2 linked regions of the Homo sapiens genome follow. The gene in region 2 interacts genetically with the main gene of each other region. Each region holds a gene or a part of one and is shown on either strand. Other genes may lie near its edges.

Evidence for each region.
Region 1: changes in ALAD (region 2) and SKP2 together harm fitness less than expected from each alone (positive genetic interaction), as found in Homo sapiens cells (one large-scale study listed by BioGRID).

The regions. Positions count from the first base shown.
Region 1 is NC_000005.10:36,157,421-36,162,110, reverse strand, and holds part of SKP2 (S-phase kinase-associated protein 2), read right to left. Parts: intron 1-4,690. UniProt on the Homo sapiens protein: Substrate recognition component of a SCF (SKP1-CUL1-F-box protein) E3 ubiquitin-protein ligase complex which mediates the ubiquitination and subsequent proteasomal degradation of target proteins involved in cell cycle progression, signal transduction and transcription.
Region 2 is NC_000009.12:113,392,439-113,398,319, forward strand, and holds part of ALAD (delta-aminolevulinic acid dehydratase), read right to left. Parts: exon of another isoform or gene 5,640-5,881; intron 4,837-5,639; exon of another isoform or gene 4,608-4,836; intron 4,018-4,607; exon of another isoform or gene 3,020-4,017; coding exon of another isoform or gene 2,969-3,019; intron 1,200-2,968; exon of another isoform or gene 1,197-1,199; coding exon of another isoform or gene 1,122-1,196; coding exon 1,009-1,121; intron 1-1,008.

The DNA.
Region 1 (4,690 bases), on a different chromosome or scaffold from region 2:
GATCACTCTGGCTGCTGTGTTTAGAACAGAAAGGTGGATGCAGGAAGCGCAGTTTTCTTTCATAGAAGCAATCTCTAAATAACTATTCAACAAGTATGAAACTCTTACATATGAATACATAGAATAATCCCACAAGCTCAGGATAATGTAACAATTGCCAAGAAGGAAATAAATGCACAATGAAGGAATCCTAAAAAACAGTCAGATGAGTTCAATGATTGCCTTCCTAGGCTTTCCACCTCTGATGGATCTTCTACACCAATTCTGGTGATATTCTCTCCTCCTACTCCCATTTAAAGGTGCCAGTCTTTACTGAGCATGTCCTTTGTACCAGGCCCTGTATAAGTGGGTTTGAGGACACAAGGGAGAAAAACACCGAGGAGTGTGACAAACACCTGCTGCCCTGGGCAGTCTTTCTAAACCAGCATGTCTTTCCCCCAGTTAGAATCCTTCAGTGGTACACCCCAGGTATTTAGGCTAAAGTCCACAATGCTTAGTACAAAGTTAAACGCTTTCAGCCAGGTCTCAACTAGTTTTCCTAGGTTTGTTATCTAGAAATGTGTTCCAGCCATTTGGAGCTACCTGTAATTCTTAGAATGAGTCATTCTGTGCCGTATCTCAATGCTTTTGCACATCCTGTGCTTGCCTCCAACTACTATTCATTTAAAATCAAATGGAAGCCCCAGTTCCCACAGAAGGCCTCCCGTGACATCAACAAGGACAGGCCACTTATGTACCATAATTTCATTATTTACTTACTCATCTCTCTAGACCCCCAGGAGCTCTTGAGAAACAAAAACGCTTTTTTTTTTTTTTTTAACAATTTTTGTATTTTCAGGAACTAGCATAAAATTGATACATTCATCCACTCCCATATTTATAAAATATGTACTATACACTGAGGTCTATTCTAGGTTTTAAGGACACAATGATAAATAAGGCACAATCCTGACCCTTATTCTGCTCAGAGTTTGAGAGATATAGACAAACAGGAAACTTCAATAACCTATCCTGATGGGCTACAGTAGGATTCGGGGTGCTGTGCAGCTTATGGGAATGGCGCAGGGGTTAGGGAAGCCTTTCTGGAGGAAGTGGCCTCTCTTGAAGAATGAGTAGGAGATACACAGTTGTTCAATGAATGCCTGTTCCCCTAGCCTCACGCCCTTCAGGGGACAAAATTAAAGGACTGACTGAGGCCCTGAAAGCTAGGGGTAGAAAGCTGAAGGCAGATCACCCCTGCTGATCTGGGGAGGCAGCTGGAGGTTGTGAGGAGGCTCCTCGACGTGGCAGCTGTTCCATCACTGCCACAAAGTTCCTCCAAAGTCAACATGGGCAGGGGACAAAGGTTCTCAAACCAGGCTCTTGCCCTGCTCCCCAAATTGAAAACAAAGTTGAATGACAGGCTTTTCTCAAGTTTTTCTCCCATTAATCCAACTCTCTCAGACCTCTGCTGCCTCTTACATATCTAGATCAGAATCTAGTAATTGATTGGGCATAACTATATTTAGCTATAAGTATAGTCATCCACTCACGTATTTATTAACCATGTACTATATACACTGAGGTCTGTTCTAGGTTTTGGGCCACAACAATAAGTAAGGTACAATCCTGACCCTTATTCTACTCTGAGTTTGAGAGATACAGACAAACAATTAAACAGGAAATTTCAATAAACTATCCTGATGGGCTACAGCAGGATTCAGGGTGCTGTGCAGCACATGGGAATGGTGCAGAGGTTAAGGAAGCCTTCCTGGAGGAAGTGGCCTCTATGGAAGAGTAAGCTTAACTATACTTCAATAACATACTTAGCTATTTTGAATCTAATATGTTGAGATTTTACTATAATCTGTAAAAATCATACTGACACCATACGCTGGGCCTCCTCAACACATTTGAGGACTACTGGACTGAGAAAGCAGCACAGTTTCTATCAGAATCCTGGCTGTGTTGCCCCAAGTCTGTGAACTTGGGCAAGTTACTTAATCTTTCTGGCCTCAGTTTCTTTACCTGCAGGAAAGGAAATTGACAGATTTATCTTGCAAAATTGTTCAGTGAAGAGTAAATGAGGTACAAGAAAAGATTAAATAATGCAGCAGGGAGTAAAACTTTCTTTTCTATATTCCTCTCCTTTCCCAGTTAAGTCTGGGTATTTTCTTCATGCAATGACCTTTTCAGTGCTGCTCTGAATTTTCACCCATGGGCAGACACTGGACAAGGTCTGCATGGTATGACTTACCAAAACCCCGTATCTGCCCTTTATTTAAGTTTGGGTCCCCCAGAAGCAGATTCTGAAGCTCTGACTTCAAGTAGTTTATTTGGGAAGTGATGCCAGGAAGCACTAGAAAGAGTGGAGAAGACAGAGGTGGAAGGGAAGAAAGCCAACCTGGAGTAGGCTAATAGGCAGGTTATCCCTATGGGCAATTGGGGTTCAAATCTTCTGGGGACTCCAGTAAACCATCTAGAAACTACCCCAGAGCTGTCTCAACCAAGGGCACGAGTGCTGGGGTATTAATCCATCAATTGCTGTTGGTCACTATTTGGGGACTCCCCAGTATTCCTGCCCAGAGAAAGCCCTCAGGCATGGAATCTCATCTACACGTAGGCAAAAGCTTTGGCATGTAAGGGAATGGGGGGCTTCAAGGGGCTATAGATAGGGCACCAACAGAAATTATGGCTGGGGAAAGGAAATTAGAAAAGCTTGCTATGAAGTACAGGGCAGGAGAAATAAATTAACAAACTTGGTGCTTTCTATTAGGAAGACATAAGAAATCAGGACCAATTAAAAGAGCAGTAGCAGCCAGGTAATTAAAGTGCTAGAGGAAAATCTGGCATAGTGATGAATGCAGAGGTCAGTAGACCTAACCAATGAAGACTGCATGTGAGACTCCAAAGTCTGGAGGACTTTGTGTTGCAACTTCCATCTTTGCCTTCCCAACTCCTCCAGATTTCAGCTTAAATGGCACCTGCTCAAAGAAGCATTCCCACCCAGGATACCACCACAGGCCCCATGCCCAGATTTGCACATCCATTACCTAACAATGCCTGGCACATAACAGGACTCTATAAATATTTGCCAAATGTATTTATTAGCCCTCTTCATTCAAATGGTGAATGTGCTAATTCTTTATTAGTGTGAATGGCTAACCCTTATTAACCAATTAACGACTATGTGCACAGCACTGTTGGCATATGGAGGGGATGAGGCTGAAGACAAAAACCCAGAGCAGAAGGGAATGTCCTCTATCAGTATAGCTGTAGTCTCTGGGAGATGGGGGCTGGGGCTTCAAGAAAACATGCAACTATGATAAAAGAGACAAGGTCACACAATCAGTAAGTGGCAGAGGGGGAATTTAAACTCAGGTCTGATTTCAAATCATGCCCTTTCCATCCTAGTGGGTTCTAATATTCTATGCTCTCCTCTGTTGTAAGTACAAATTTTGAAAAGGTGAGAATTAAACCCGGACTTGCTATGGAAACAGAAATCAATCAGGGCTAGGGAGTGAGTGGAGGAGGAGAGAGAAAATAAAACAAAGATGCTATCAATGGGTTCACCACCAAATGGAAGGAGCAAGGTCCTAGAAAACACACATACTCAGCTAGCAGCCAAGTACCCAGTGCTCTTACTCAGCTGACCACAGAATGACACTAATCCTAGGGGCCCCGGGTGGGGGTACCACAGCCTGATATGGGCTGCTGTCCCAGCAGATGGGGCAGAAGTTTGTCTTTAATAGCTGCTCTAGCAATAGGCATCCAGGCTGTGATATGCTTAATCTAATTTTCCTTGCCATATTTAATTCTCAAAACATTAGCCATCTGTTTCCTGAATTCATGATGAAACTGCTGCCTGGTCTGTTTGCAGAGAGCGGAAGGAAAAATCCAGAGGTCTTTTCTCCACTTGTCTCTGCTAAATCCAGCAAGGCTGTAGCTGCATACCAGACCCACATTAAAAGACATAATTACTGAGCCCAAGGTCTCCAGTCTTCAATGACATGGACGGCAGTTAAATATACTTCAGGGCCAGGAAAGGGCAAAAACTGGGCCAAACCAGCAAACCTACTACAATCACCCTCACCTACCACTGTTTCCAATTATTTCTCAGGTGCAAACCCAGTTTCCCACTTCTGTAACCTTATCACATCTCATGCTTCCTGAAATTCTCTGGGAAGAGGGCCTTGTTGGAGAGTTTTCTATGCATTCCATCTTTGCAGTGTAGGTAACTCATCTTACTTGACATATTTATTTCTCAGAATATCACTCCACTCATTTATTTCTCAGAACATCACTCCACTCCACTCAGATTCAAGCTGAAAATCCAAAGTAATGCTAATCATAATCAAACTTTTGACTTAAAAAATTGCTGCTCTTTAAGCATAATCAGATTATACTTGCAGAAATGTATACTGAGGACCTGGTACTCATACTTGTTTTTGTGTGTGTGTGCATTTCTTTCAGGGAGTTGGGGGGTGCTCACCTCAGAATTGCTTTTGCTGGCTTGTTTTAAGTAGCAATACCCCATGCTTTCTTTCTGGGGAACTACAAACAGATTGTGCCATCCCAGATGAGTTCTCCTTCCTCTTCCCACAAACCATAAATAATACATTTGAGGCCATGTTGGCTTTGGGTGTTTTTGTTTTTTTGGCTAAGGTGGGCAAAACTGAAAAAAACAAAACACAGCCAAACTTAACAAGGA
Region 2 (5,881 bases):
TCTGAATTTGGCAGGTCCTTGCTTTCTATCCCAGCCACTTACTGCCTGGGTGACCGTGGCCAAGTTCTATCATCTCTTTGAGCCTTAGGCCTTCATCTATATCATGCGTGGTTAATTCATTCATTCAACAAATATTTATTGAGTACTTATTATGTGCCAAGTACTGTTCTAGGCCCTGATGATACAACAGTGAACAAAATAGACAAACATCCCTGCCCTCATGGAGCTGATGTTCTAGAGGATAGCTACTCCTTCTTCATACAAATGCTCTCAGAATTGAATGAGATAATGTGTGTAGGTGCTTAGCATAGTACCTGGTAGATAGTAAGTACTCAGTAAATGTCTGCATTATTATTAACAATCACGATTGCCATCTCTTTTTTTTTTTTTTTTTTTTGAGATGGAGTCTGGCTCCGTCGCCCAGGCTGGAGTGAAGTGGTGCAATCTCGGCTCACTGCAAGCTCCGCCTCCCGGGTTCACGCCATTCTCCTGCCTCAGCCTCCCAAGTAGCTGGGACTACAGGCACCCGCCACCACGCCTGGCTAATTTCTTTGTGTTTTTAGTAGAGACAGGGTTTCACCATATTAGCCAGGATGGTCTCGATCTCCTGACCTCGTGATCCGCCTGCCTCAGCCTCCCAAAGTGCTGGGATTACAGGCGTGAGCCACCGTGCCCAGCCTCAATGACTGCCATCTCTTACAGGTACATAGCACTTTACAATGTACAGAGCACCTTCTCAGCTTCTGTCTTACTGCAAGAGCTCAGGATGGCAGGCAAGGGTTATTCTTCTAATTTTCCAAATGGGATGAATGAGTTCTTTCAAAGTTTGTTTTGTTCCTAAGATTCCTGTCCTTAATCCAAGTAGCCTGCTTCCAGTGCCTTGAATTTCAAGCTGACAGCTCACTTTGCCACCCCCAGCCATACTGATGCCCGCTCCAGTCAACACTCCCTCCCCAACCCCAACCCCAACCAGCAGAGCAGAGGCCTGGCCCATTCTTGGAGACTCACGTGACAAAGATGGGGTAGATGAGGTTGGAGGCATTGAGGGTGGTGGTGGCTGTCTGCCAGGCCCGAAGTAGTGGGTGGAAGTAGCCGCTGTGCAGAACGGACTGGGGCTGCATGGCGTGGGCCAGTGGGCACAGGGGCATCAGTTGGTTGGAACCGAGGGCTCCTGGGGCATTGGCTGCAGGCTCTGTCTGTGGGGGGTGATGGGTGGCACATGAGACATGGTCCCTGTCCTCAGGAGATGGTCACATCTGGAAAACAGCTCTTCTAGATTCCTGCCTCCCCTCTCTCTAGCCCAATGCTACTCACAGCATGGTTCACCAATCCCTGCTGGTCAACAAGGTAAGTTGAGAAATGAAAGTAAGTCTTTAGAAACTTTCATGACAATCAGAATCTAATGATATAAAATTTGGGCTTGTATTTTATGTGACTGCTTCTTGTTCATTATTATCTTTTAAAGTAAACATCTGAGCAAGCAATGACTGTTTAAAAAAAATTCTCTTCTTTTTTTTTTTTTCACACAGGGTCTCTGTCGCCCAGGCTGGAGTGCAGTGGTGCAATCTCGACTCACTGCAGCCTTGACCTCCCGGGCTCAACTGTTTCTCCCAACTCAGCCTCCCAAGTAGCTGGGACTGCAGGTGTGCACCACAACATCCAGCTAATTTTCGAATTTTTTGTAGAGATGGAGGTCTTGCCATGCTTCCCAGGATGGTCTCGAACTCCTGGGCTCAAGCAATCTGCCTGCCTCAGCCTCCCAAAGTGCCGGGATTACAGGCGTGAGCCACGGTGCCTAGCCAAAAAAGTAATTTTCTAGCTGGGCATGGTGGCTCACGCCTGTAATCCCGGCACTTTGGGAGGCTGAGGTGGCAGGATGGCTTGAGCCCAAGAGTTCGAGACCAGCCTGGGCAACATGGCGAGACCCTGTATCTACAAAAAGTTTAAAAATCAGCCAGGTGTGGTGGTCCACACCTGTAGTCCCAGCTACTCAGGAGGCTAAAGCAAGAGGATCGCTTGAGCCCAGGAGTTCAAGGTTGCAGTAAGCTATGATTGCACCACTGCACTCCAGCCTGGGTGAGAGAGGGAGACGTCTCTAAAAAAAAATAATAATTTTATTGCATTGCATTTTATCAAAGAATCAATAAATTGGAAATAGAAAAAAAAGAACTAATCCTTCCTTATGCATAAAGAAGCACTGATCTAGCCAACATTTAAACTTTGTTTATTCCACAAAAAATGCCCGTGTTCATGGCAGAACTTTTAGAAAAGTGCAGATAAGCAAAAAGAGAAAAATCCCCTGCAATTCTACCTCTAGAGAAAAGTACTGTTGGCCGGGCATGGCGGCTCACACCTATAATCTCAGCACTTTGGGAGGCTGAGATGGGCAGATCACTTGAGGTCAGGAGTTCGAGACCAGCCTGGCCAACACAGTTAAACCCCACCTCTACTAAAAATACAAAAAAAATTAGCTGGGCGTGGTGGTGCGTGCCTGTAATCCCAGCTACTGGGGAGGCTGAGGCAGGAGAACTGCTTGAATCCAGGAGGAGGAGGTTGCAGTAAGCCGAGATAGCGCCACTTCACTCCAGCCTGGGCGACAGAGCAAGACTTCATTCCAAAAAAAAAAAGAAAGAAAGAAAAGAGAAAAGTACTTGGGACATGGATTTTTTGTTAGGTACAATGCACACCAATAGGAGAAAATAGTACCATTCATGTTAGATAGACAGACAGACACATACACTGTATAGAGTGCCACCAAATCTTTTCTAGCCCAAGGAGTTTCCTGGGCTCCACGAGCACAAGCTACACCTTCTTGCTTTCCTAACCTTGTCCCTTTACCTGAAAGGCTGTGCTCTCCCCACAGCCTCCCCGCACCCAAATCTACAGGGTTCTCCTTCCCTCTCCCACTGAGGCTGTCTTGTCCAGATTGCAGTCTCTCTTATGTAAGTTATCTGTGGACCTGTCTTACCTCATGCCAGTAGACAGAGCTTCTGCAGGGCAAGGTCCAGAGTTGGTTCATTTTTGCCTCCCCTACAGTGCTCTGTCACACACTGACCTTGGCACACAGTAAATATTTAATTACGTGAAGTACAAAAATATGCTCCAAATGCCAAATTAGTGGACACAAGACAGAAGGAAGCTGGGGCATTAACATTTGTTTCTTGAGCACCTACTGTGTGCCAGACCATGCCTGGCATTTTCACAGGTGATTTCTCATCAAGTGGGCACTACAGTCCTGGCAGGCAGGGCTGATTGAGTGCATGGAGCCTGACCAGAAGTGAGCCATGGCTCCAATGGGAGTGAGGAGGTCAGAAGAGGCATATTAGAAGAAGACAGGCGCCAGGCGTAGTGGCTCACACCTGTAACCCCAGCACTTTGGGAGGCTGAGGCGGGTGGATCACTTGAGGTCTGGAGTTTGAGACCAGGCTGGCCAATGTGGTGAAACTCCGTCTCTACTAAAAATACAAAAATTAGGCCAGGCACGGTGGCTCACGCCTGTAATCCCAGCACTTTGGGAGGCCGAGGTGGGTGGATCACTTGAGGTCAGGAGTTTGAGACCAGCCTGACCAACATGGTGAAACCCCATCTCTACTAAAAATAAAAAAAAATTAGCCGGGTGTGGTGGCACATGCCTGTAATCCCAGCTACTTCAGAAGCTGAGATAGGAGAATCCTTTGAACTTGGGAGGCGGAGGTTGCAATGAGCCGAGATCGTGCCATTGCACTCCAGCATGGGCAACAAGAGAGAAACTCCATCTCACAATAAATAAATAAATAGAAATAAAAATAAAAATACAAAAATTAGCTGGGTGTGGTGGTGTGCACCTGTAGTCAGAGTTCCTCTGGAGGCTGAGGCAGAAGAATCGATTGAACCTAGGAGGCAGAGGTTGCAGTGAGCCGAGAGTGCACCCATTGCACTCTAGCCTGGGCGACAGTGTGAGACTCCATCTCAAAAAAAAAAAAAAAAAAGAAAATGACAGGGCGTTGAACTTGGTTTTGCAGGATGAGTGGGTTCAGCCTGGTGGAGAGAAGGGGGCCAATATTTCCTTAGGAAGGGAAGAAAGGGGCAAAGGTGGGGAAGGAGGATGGCTGTGGACTGTTTTGAGGAGCTGAGGCAAGTGTGTATGGAGGGGATGGATAAGAGGGGGCCAGGCTGAGGCTGTGGGAAGATTTCTGAGCAGTGGGTAGGGTTAGTGGCCTGGTTGACACCTGGCTTTGGGAAGATCAATCCTGCAGGCTGAGCAGAGCAGACAGGAAGCAGAGGAATGCAGAGGCTGGGGAGGCTGCGGGCAGAGAAGGAAGGGGCGTCTTAAGGCAGCCAACAGGCAGTGTCTCAGGGCGGATGCTCTAGGCCTGCCTGCCTGCCTGATCTAAAGGGCAGCGGAGACAGGGACAGGGCAGGAAGAGGGCAGTGGGGAGCTGGGCTTGGAGAGGAGGTGGAGAGCTCTGTTTTAGACACTTCCTTTTGGAGGTGCCTGGGAGACTATCCCATAGCCAAAGGATGGGGAGGGGCGGGGAAGAGCCACAAAAATGGGGGCTGGCAGGCCTGAGTCCAACTGCTTTTTGTATGAATGGGACCTCAAGGTCCAGAGAGGGGCAAGGACTTACCCAAAGCCACACAGCGAGCAAAAGGACTAGAACCCTGGTGTGTTAACTCCCAGGTGAACTGGGAGATCCTTTGGTAGGTTGGAGTCAAGTCAGATGTCGAAGCCAGGTCTAATCCCTCTAATTTGCTTCCCAGAAAACCACCTTTGTAACAGGTCCTTGGCTTCTGGAATCCAAAGCTGCATTCCCGTGGCCTCAACTCCTCATTGCTTTCAGGAGGCTGAGGGAACAACTGCCTCCTGCTTATCAGAAACAGTGGGGCAGGGCTGCCTAGGAACTGGCTGCCCTTCTCCCCATAGTCTCTTAGGCCCCTTTAGCTGCCTTCAGCCATCTCAGGGGCCCATTTTATCCAGTCTTCCTCCTTGGTAGGGTGGGGTTATCACAAGTCACACAGGGGCCAGCCCTGCTGCCACACCCCTGGGTGGGCCAGCCCCATCACCTAACACAGGGGCAGGCCAGGCCTCCCCAGTCATGTCTCAACCTCCAAACAGACAATTATTCAGTAGATATGAGGTCCCAGCTGCCCATTTCGTACTCGATTTTGCTCTCATGTCTGCCAGGAGTTTTTTTTCCTTTTCTTTTTTTTTTTTTTTTTTTTTTGAGACAGAGTCTGGCTCTGTCACCCAAGCTGGAGTGCAGTGGTTCGATCTCGGCTCACTGCAACCTCCACCTCCTGGGTTCAAGTGATTCTCCTGCCTCAGCCTCCCAAATAGATGGGACTACAGGCATGCATGACCATGCTTGGCTAATTTTTGTATTTTTAGTAGAGACAGGGTTTCGCCATGTTGGCCAGGCTGGTCTCAAACTCCTGACTTCAAGTGATCCGCCCGCCTCTGCCTCCCAAAGTGCTGGGATTACAGGCGTGAGCCACCGCACCTGGCCGAGAGAATATTTTTGCATATTGAGAGAATTACCAAAATGTAAGCCAGTTGCCCAAGACCACATAGCTACTTAGTGACTGAGCCAGAATTTGAATTTGTTCTGGACTCCAAATGCTGGGTTTTATATACTGTATTTCATAATACTGATAAACACCTGATTCAGTAGGCGTCTCTCTGCCCATACTGTTTCTGCTTTGGGTGCTGGAGAGACAGAAGAAACAAAAGAAAAACATACTGAGTGTATTCGTTCTGTGCTGGGCACAGCACTGAAGTACTTGGTAGTAGTATCTCATTTCATTGCAAGAATTGTCCTAACTTTTAGTGATAAGGAAACAGAGGCTCTGAGCGGTTCAGTGACTTGCTTAATGCCATTCTAGAGTCTAGTCAGATGTTGAA